Linked DNA regions of Homo sapiens: region 1 is linked to region 2. Evidence: fine-mapped expression QTL. A gene starts in region 2. The other region holds a variant in brackets. All regions are shown on one strand. Distances are between the middles of the regions.

Region 1 (4,343 bases), 52 kb after region 2:
TCTGCTTCCAATCATTTGCCATCATTCATTCATTCATTCATTCACCCATTCACTAATCAGTAAAATTTAAGTGTCCACTACGTTCCAGGACTTGCACTAGACTTTAAGGATAACAGGGTGGACAAGTTCCACTTTGGAGACCTTTACTCCAGGGAGACAGACATGTAAACTGGCTATTACAGTACAACTTATGCATATGGAAGACTGTCTTGGCCCTGTATCAGCCCTAGCTTCAGTCCTCTACAAGGAGACCACTTTCTTGGGTTTCATCACTCCCATCCTGTTTGAATCTCCATTTCTCAACAGCATTTGGCACTGTTGACCCCTCTTCCTCTAAACACTCTCTTCCTTTGCTGCTGAGTCTCTCTTGCTCCCCTTTTCTCCATTGCAGAAATCGTCTTCCAGCTCATGGCATTGGTGCTGAGCATGGGCAGGCCATTATCCTCCCGGTTCTTGAGGCAATGATTGAAGTCCAGCGGGGTGACGCAACTGCAGGAGGGGTCTGTATTGGTAGTGATGAGGCTGTGGTGCTGGCTTCTAGGGCCATTCCCGTCTGTATCATTTAGACACCATGGTTCAGTGTCTGGAATCCTCACAGACTTAGTCCTAGGCCCTCCTCTCATCTCACACTGTCTCCACTTTGGGATCTTACCTATGCCCACAGCTTCAATCACCACCCATACAAACAATACAAACCTGACGCCCAGACTGACATCTCCAGCTTCCACCTCTGTTCTGAGCTCCAGACCTATGAAGCCACCTCTTATTTGACCTTCACCTTGGATGACTCACAGGGACCTCAAACTCAATATGTTCAAGACGAAATTTTTGCTTTTCCCCCATAACTTGGTTGGCTTCCACTGCTTTTTTCTGCAGCGAATGGCACCCTCAACATCGCATTGTGGCCAAATGCTCAGGCAACAGCCTTTAGAGCTTTCTCTTCCTTATCCATGTTGAATTCTTTACAAAATTCTGCCCATTTTACTTCCTATATATTCTCAGACATCCCACATCTCTCCATCTCTACCATTATTAGTCAAGCTACCTGTTGCAAAGACCACTTTAGCTCCCTAATTCCTAACTGGTGTTCAGCGTCCGCTTTGTTTATACCTCCTTATCACCCATATGTCATTTATAGTCAGATAGAATGATCTTTTCAAAATACAGATCTGATCATGTATCTTTCCTGCTAACCAGCCTTCAGTGGTGTCTCCTCACTGTCAAAGTGAATATTAAAAATCTAGATACCTCATACATGGTTCTACATGCCTGGTCACATGCTGTCTGTAGTTCCATCTCACTTCTTTCCCCAAACTCTCTGCACTCCAGCCACAGACCTTCTTCTAGTTTTCCCAGCGCCACGAGGCCTTTGAACAAGCTGGTTCCTGCACCTAAAAAGCTTCTTAGTCACATTTTTCTCATCCTTCAGCTCTCAGCCTAAACATCTTTGCTACACAGGAGTCTTCCCTAACCTCTAGAATTGCTACTCAAAGTGTGGTTCATGGACCAGCAGCATTCCTGGGAGCTTGTTAGAAATGCAGAATCCAAGCCTCACCCAGACCCTTGAATCATAATCTGTATTTTATCCAGATCTCCAGGCATAGGTATTATACATTAAAGGTAGAGACACACATCTCTAAGAGATTTGTTACCTGATAGGTACTTTATTCTCTAATCCTAGGTAAGGGCTAGAAAGCAGTGTTCTATCATTGTCAGCCGGGAAATCTTTCCCCCTTCTCTCCACTGAACCACACTTTTAACTTGTCTCTGTTCAGAAATTTTCCACGTATGGGAAACTCTTTTCTTCAGACAGGGTCTCACTGTCTTACCCAGGATGGAGTGCAGTGGCTTGATCACAGCTCACTGCAGTCTCCACCTCCCCAGCTCAAGCAATCCTCCTACCTCAGCCTCCTGAATAGCTGGGACTACATGCATGTGCCACCACACTTGGCTAATTTTTTGATGTTTTGTTGAGACAGGGTCTCACTGTGTGGCCCAGGCTGGCCTCATACTCCTGAGTTCAAGCCGTACTC[C/T]GGCCTCAGCCTCCCGAAGTGCTGGGATTACAGGTGCGAGTCACTGCATCCCTCCGAAACATTTCTTTGCTAATGCATCAAGCAGCCTCCTACCACTTCCCCTCTCCCAACTCATTTCAGCATCTCTTCAGGTTTTACTATGGTGCTGTATAGCCAATATTCCTTGGGGATTTATCGTCTGCATCCTTGTGTCTGTCCTGGAATAATAATCACTTAATTTATACATTGTGGGGCTGTTCACATGCATTTTCTTGTTAGGTCCTCACAATAACCCTGTAAGACCATTATGATCATGCTAATATTGAAGATGAAACCAGGACTTCAGAGGGACTGGCATGATTTACCCATGGATGCACAACTACATGGCAGATCAGAGACTTGAATTGAAACCTCTAATTCCAGGCTAATCTCTTGAAATTCTGTTTGGAAGATGATGGACGATAGACTTCAACACATGGGGGTGAATTTTGTTGGCCCCAGAATCTGACAGTGCATTTTTCTTTGAGAGTGAGATGAGAAAGGAACCTAAAGGGGAGGAGGCAAATGTGCAGGGGTGCCAACAGACTATGATTATGCCCCCAATCCAGTCATCATGCCATGGTAATATCTTGGGAAAGCAGAACTGAAGCAATTGATTTGTAGCTTGGATGTTTTCCCTTGTGGTAAATGGCTAGCGTGATCTATCTAAGCCACGGTCTTATCAATTTCACCAAAGTCCTGAAGACTGACCTTTCAACACATTGCATTCATCTGCAACCGCGGATCCTCCAGAAAATGGTTTGTCCAGAAGGATGATGAGCAGGTCATCCTGAGATGATCTACCTGGGAAGCCAAGTGAAAAGGCCTATACCCTCTTGGTGTCACCTAAGGAAGAGGGTGCCTAGACTGGCCAGCAGCAGTCTCCAGTTGGCCAGGGCTATCCTGTGGTGCAAAGCTGAGGCTGGGCCTTTAGTTGGGGTGGCCTCTCCAGGATGGCACATTTCAAGGCCCTTATGTGGTCAGCTTCTCTCCACATTGACACCTCTCTAATGACATCATATGACAATGAAGTCTTGGAGGAAGGCCCTCAGGTCAGTCATCGGCATCTGCCTTCTGGGAACACTAGTCCTCAGACTCTCCTCCTCTGGGTTTCAGTTCAGATCTCACCTCCCAACCATCCTGTCTAAAGTCTCCTTCACTGCCCTCTCCCCTCATCTAGTTAGTTTCTTCAAATCATCCTGCCGACGTCCATCACCAGCAAATGTCGAATCTATGGCAGGTTTATGTTTTTATTTATGTATTTTAACTGACTTATTTGTGTATCCCACTAGAACAATACATTCACAATATACTTGCAGAACTGTGCCTGGCGCGTCATGGGAGCAGAGAACTTGTCCAGTGAATAGTTGTTGAAGAAAGGAGTAAAATCTCCCCCAAACCCTAAAGGCATCCTTTTCGTAGTGTGTGTCCCATAGGTATGGCTGCTGAGCACCAGGGCTGCTCACCATGCTCCCAAGAAGCAGAGTCAGGGAGGCAGACAGCAGGGTTTATTAAGGTGCACACCCATGTCTGAGCCCCAGCTCTCTCCGCCTTCTGTGGGGAGAAGCCCTCCGGTCTTTCCGAGAACCTTCAAACTCTGGACAGTTTATGTCTTGCCCGCACTCTCAGCTAACAGTGCAGTGCTGATCTTCTAGAGCCAAGAAACAGGAAAAGAGAGAGGCTCTATGTGGCCCCAGGTTTCTGCCACCTGACTTTTCACAGCCAGTCTTCCAGAGGTGGGTGGTAGTGCAGTGACCTCCACCCTAGGCTGAGGAGAGAAGGATCTAGTTCCTCACTGCCCCAGAGCCTAGTACCTGCTCCTGACAAAGCAGGGAATAATATTAAATATAAATAATTTACACAAAATGGCTTGTACAAAAAGCTGTAGGTTAGGGGGAGAAGACACCTCTGTGAGAGGTTGAGATGAGCAGAAAGGGCAGGAAAGGGGAAAGATACCCCCATTTCTCCTAGTCCCTTAACAAAGCCTTCCAGCCACCCAAGGCCTAAAGGGGGGCTTTGGCAGGCAGGGGAGGAGCAGAGCTGTGCCAAAGGACCTTCATGGAGCCAGGCTAGTGAGCAGGGTAGTGAATTGCAGGGCCTGCCCTGCCAGTTCTGTTACACACTGCACCATCTCTTGGATGGCAGGGCTGGATGGGTAGCCCAGGGCAGCTCCCTTGACAGCCAGCACAGTGGCCCGCAATGCCTGGCCCAGTGCTGTACCTGCAGCCCTGACCTGTGCTCTCAGAGGGGCAGAGGCTGCCAGCCGGCCCAGGGTGTCCCCAACAAACACCA
Region 2 (4,389 bases):
GTCTGGAGTTGCTTTGGCCTCCGTTTTAATCCCTAAAGCTGCCTGGAGGCTGGAGCTCTGATAGCTACCTGTCATCACTCCCCAGCCAGTCCGCGGACACCGCAGCCAGGAACTGTCAGAGGTGACAAGGGAATCCCGTCATAATGCCAAGGACCAAGGAGCAGTGGCCAGGTTCCTGGGATTAAGCAAGGCAATTATGGCTGAGTTAAAGCTAGGATGGGTAGGACAGGGGGATCTGAGGTGGAAAAGGCCGGTAAGAAGAGGGAATGCGCCAGCAATGTAAATGCCTTCGACTGGGTGGGCTACTTCACATCATACCTCCTCCATCTCCAAAAGGTTCTTAACCTTCTTCAACCGCCTAGGCCTGATGGACCTCCTCCCTTTCTCCCAGAGCCCACTCACTGAAGGGAAGGCCACCATCATCCCCATTCTTTTCCTTTTTTTATAATCCCTCCGGTGCCGTTTCGGGTCTCCTTCCTCCTATATTCTGAGTTCCTTCCACTCACATCCAACCAGCTTTTAACACCCGGATCTCCCGGAGCTTCTTTGGTTCCGCTCACTCCCCCCGCCCCCACGCCCCCACGCCCCCACGCCCCTGATTTCCCCACCCTTTTCGCCCTCCCCGGCTTGACTCCCTTGGACCGCTCCCGCCAATCCTGGTCTCTCCTACTCCTCCCCGCCACATCGGGTCGCCCCGCCCCCGGGTGCCTTTGGTGTTTTCCGCCGTCGGCCGCAGGCGCCTCGTCTCAGATAAAGTGGATCCAGCCCTGCGGCTCCGGAGCTCCGCCACTGCCCGGGTGCTCGGGCCCACGTAGAGCATAGTCACGGCCGCCGTTGTTGTCCCAGAACTCGTGACCTGTCACACGGTAGCGCAAGGCGAAGAGCAGGGCGCCCCCAATCGGCGGCGCGGGCAGGCGGAAGGCGAAGCGGTCGGCGCGCGGCGGGGGCGGGGCCGGACCGGCGTAGGCGGCTGGCGCCTCGCGTTGGCTCCGCCAGCCGTCGGCGCTCCAGCGCACGCTCACGCGCTTCTCGTAGGCCAGGTCCACCACGCGCGCGCTCCCGGCCACGCCCAGCGGGCCCGCCTCGGCGCGTTCCAGGCAGATGCGCTGCGTCAGCAAGCGGGCGGCGAAGCCGGGCTCGCTGGCCGGCTCCAGGGCGGCGCGCGCCTCCTGGGGGAAAGAAGAAGCGGGAGGAGGGAGCCCAGGGCGGAGAGAGGGGAGAGACAGGGGGCGGTGTCAGAGCAAGGCACTGGACCAATCAGAGGCCGACCCCGGCGTCCAGGCCGGCAGAGTGCGGCCCAGCTGCCAGGGTGGCCTAGAGCCACTCGCAGATGGGGTCCCCAAAAGGGATGGGCAGGCGCAAGCCCAGGGATGGGATGGAGATGGGTGCTCTTTGGCAAATCCACTCCCACAAGCCCGCTGCGGCCGACTGGAGGAGGTCCCCAGGAGGGGAGGTGCCCCCGCCGCCTACCTGGAGGCCGCGGGCGCGGGGCTGGCAGGGCGCGAAGTGGCGGAGGGCGTCCCTCTGCAATTGGATCTGCACGTGGCGGGGCACCCGGGGCAGCTCACCGGGACGGAAGCGGCGCACGACAGCCAGCTCCAACCCCAGTGCGTCGGCGAAACGCACTCTCTTGCGGGTGTCTGGGCTACGGCTGCGGGGCGCCCGGGCCCCGCCGCCTCCGGCTGGTGCAGATCGGGCCCGGCGGCCCCGACTCGGTGCGTGAGCGCGGGATCGGGCCCCGAACCGCGTCCCGCCCTCGCCTGGCTCCTCCTCCGGCTCCTCCTCGAGGCTGGGCCGCTGGCTACGGTAGTAGGCGCGCTCCGTTAGCGCGGCGATGAAGCTCAGGTTGCGGGGAATGTCGGTGCCCGGGGGCCGCTCACGGGACATGGCAGCCCCTTCCCCGGCGGGGCCAGCTCGCAGCGCCACCGCGCTCCCCTCTCTTCCTCTCTCCCGCCCGCCCCGCGTCAGCGCAGAAGTCGCTGGGTCCGCTTCTGCAGCCCCTCGCTGCTGTGTATTCTCCTTGCAGACACCTCCAGGATCCTCCACCTCCCGTTGCTTTGCCTCTCCTCTGTGACCACCCTTCCCTCCCTCTGGCCGTCAGCTTCCAGGGTCTTAGACTATCACATCCTGCCTCCTGCTAGCGGTCTGCTCTGAGCGTGCGCTCAACTGCACTCACCCTCCGGTTCCAAGGCCCTCACGGCCCGGGCGCCCCCGCCCACAGCCCTCTGACAGGTGGCTCCGCTTGTCTTCGCTGCTGCACCAGGGGGCGGGGACTCCACCTTTGCGGTCCCGAGTGAAGCTACTCAACCTTTTAAAAAAAACATCCACGGACGGGACGCGATGGCTCACGCCTCAAATCCCAGCACTTTGGGAGGCCGAGGTGGGAGGATCGCTTGAAGCCTGGAGTTCAAGACCAGCCTGGGCGTCATAGTGAGACCCCTGATCTCTACAATAATAATAATAATAAAATGTAAAAAGTCCTCAACTTTTCCGGCACAGCACAGGAAAGGTTAACGCCGGGAAGAAAAAATAACCTTTCATTTTCTTGCAGGGGAAGGTTCAAAACGCCCAGCATGTGACTTTATCTTTGGGGTTCACTGTTTTCTTTTCTGAAACCTAGGCTCCTGGTTTGGGCAGGGGGTGGTGGTGCGTGCAAAGAAGGAAAGGTCATGAAAGCTAGGTAGAGTCTTTCAAATAGAAGGTGAGAATATGGCACCCGAACTGAGAACTGCAGGAAGACCTAGCTTCTAGTGACCTTGAGCAAGCAAGGCATAACTTCTCTGGAGTCAGTGTTCTCGTGTGTGTGTGTGTGTGTGTGTGTGTGTGAGTGTGAGATGGAGTCTCGCTCTGTCGCCCAGGCTGGAGTGCAGTGGCGTGATCTCGGCTCACTGCAACTTCTGCCTCCCCGGTTCAAGCGGTTTTCCTGCCTCAGCCTCCTGAGTAGCTGGGATTACAGGCGTCCACCACCACGCCCGGCTAATTTTTGTATTTTTAGTAGACACGGGGTTTCACCATCTTGGCCAGGCTGGTCTTGAACTCCTGATCTCAGGTGATCTGCCCGCCTCGGCCTCCCAAAGTGCTGGGATTACAGGTGTGAGCCACCCCTGAACTCAGAGCCATACTCTGAACTCAGTGTTCTTATCTGTAAAAAAGTGGTGGAGTTCTGATTTCTAATCCAAGTGTAAGCCCTTTGAGGGCAGGGGCTTTGTCTGATTCATGGTGAGTTTTAGTATATGGTAGGCACTCAAATTATTGAATGAACAAGCACCCAACAACTCTCTTGGAGTTGGGACTGTGGAATTATAGGTCCAGTGGGAGCTTCCAAGAAGGGCAGAGCTGGCTTTTTCCCCTTTCATTTTTTTTTTTTAACATTAGTGAAAAAAAAAAGTGAAGTTGTTTTTAGTTTTTTTCTAACTTTCCTACTGATCTAATATAGCACTTACAATGTGCTAGGTACTGTTGTAAGGGTTTTACAAATACTAACCCATGTAATACAACCATCAGAGGAATAGAGACTATTATGTCTAGTTTAAAGATGAGAGAATTGAGGGAGAGAGGGGAGAGGACTCTTACCCAGGGTCACATAGTTAATAATTGGGGAGGTGGGATTAGGACCTAAACAGTTTAGCTCTAGAGTCCACGCTCTTACCCGCTTGGTTATATAAGATTAAAACATTTAACAATAATAGTTAACATCCTCAGAGTGTTAAAAGAGGGAATATTAGAGTAGAAATGAAGTCTCTAAATTTAAAGCAGCAGGATAGTTTAACTGTAAAACCACAAGTGACTAAGTTGAAAATAAACCATGAGACACATGTTATCTTATTATTATACAATTCATTCCTGTTTACATGCATTCGCACTAGTATTGACTGTAGCAATACTAGTTAGCTAGGACTCATTTTTAAAGCAATATTGACTTTTTAAATTTTACACGTATATAGAATGCATGGATGTATTCTCTTCGTATCATTATATGTGATACAATATATACAATGTATATATTGTATATGCATATACAATATAATATATATAATGCATATAAATTAATGTCTAATAAATCATACATTAATTTATGTTACAATCAAGCTGGCCCAGGAGTTTGAGATCAGTCTGGGCAACATAATGAGATCCCTATCTCTATAAAAAATGAATTTAACCAAGCATGGTGCAGTACACCTCTAGTCCCAGCTACCAGGGAGGCTGAAGTGGGAAGATTGCTTGAGCCTAGACGGTGGAAGCTGAAGTGAACTGTGCTTGTACCACTGCACTCCAGTTTAGGCCATGGAGTGAGAACCTTGTATCACAAACAAACAAATAAACCAGGAGTGCAAATGAAGACTTGGACTAGGTTATTCTCTAAAGAAGAGGGCAACCTTGCTGGTGGCA

Evidence for each region. PIP is the estimated chance that this variant, and not a neighbour inherited with it, causes the effect. A credible set is the group of variants that fine-mapping cannot tell apart.
Region 1: its variant is the best candidate, but not a certain one, in a credible set for the expression of PPP1R3E in whole blood (TOPMed, PIP 0.58).

The regions. Positions count from the first base shown.
Region 1 is chr14:23,353,119-23,357,461 of GRCh38, forward strand. It overlaps EFS (embryonal Fyn-associated substrate), which reads right to left. Exons shown (of 6, transcript NM_005864.4): 6 at 3,288-4,343. The coding sequence ends at 4,108. Among named protein-coding and RNA genes, the nearest start is that of SLC22A17, 2.4 kb to the left of the region's middle. The variant C/T (reference allele first, on the strand shown) is at 2,034.
Region 2 is chr14:23,300,690-23,305,078 of GRCh38, forward strand. PPP1R3E (protein phosphatase 1 regulatory subunit 3E) reads right to left here and starts at 2,170. Exons shown (of 5, transcript NM_001276318.2): 1 at 1,471-2,170; 2 at 609-1,169; 3 at 69-175. The coding sequence starts at 1,887. The coding sequence ends at 747. RefSeq lists an enhancer at 617-806 and silencers at 867-1,296, 1,307-1,366, 1,447-1,956.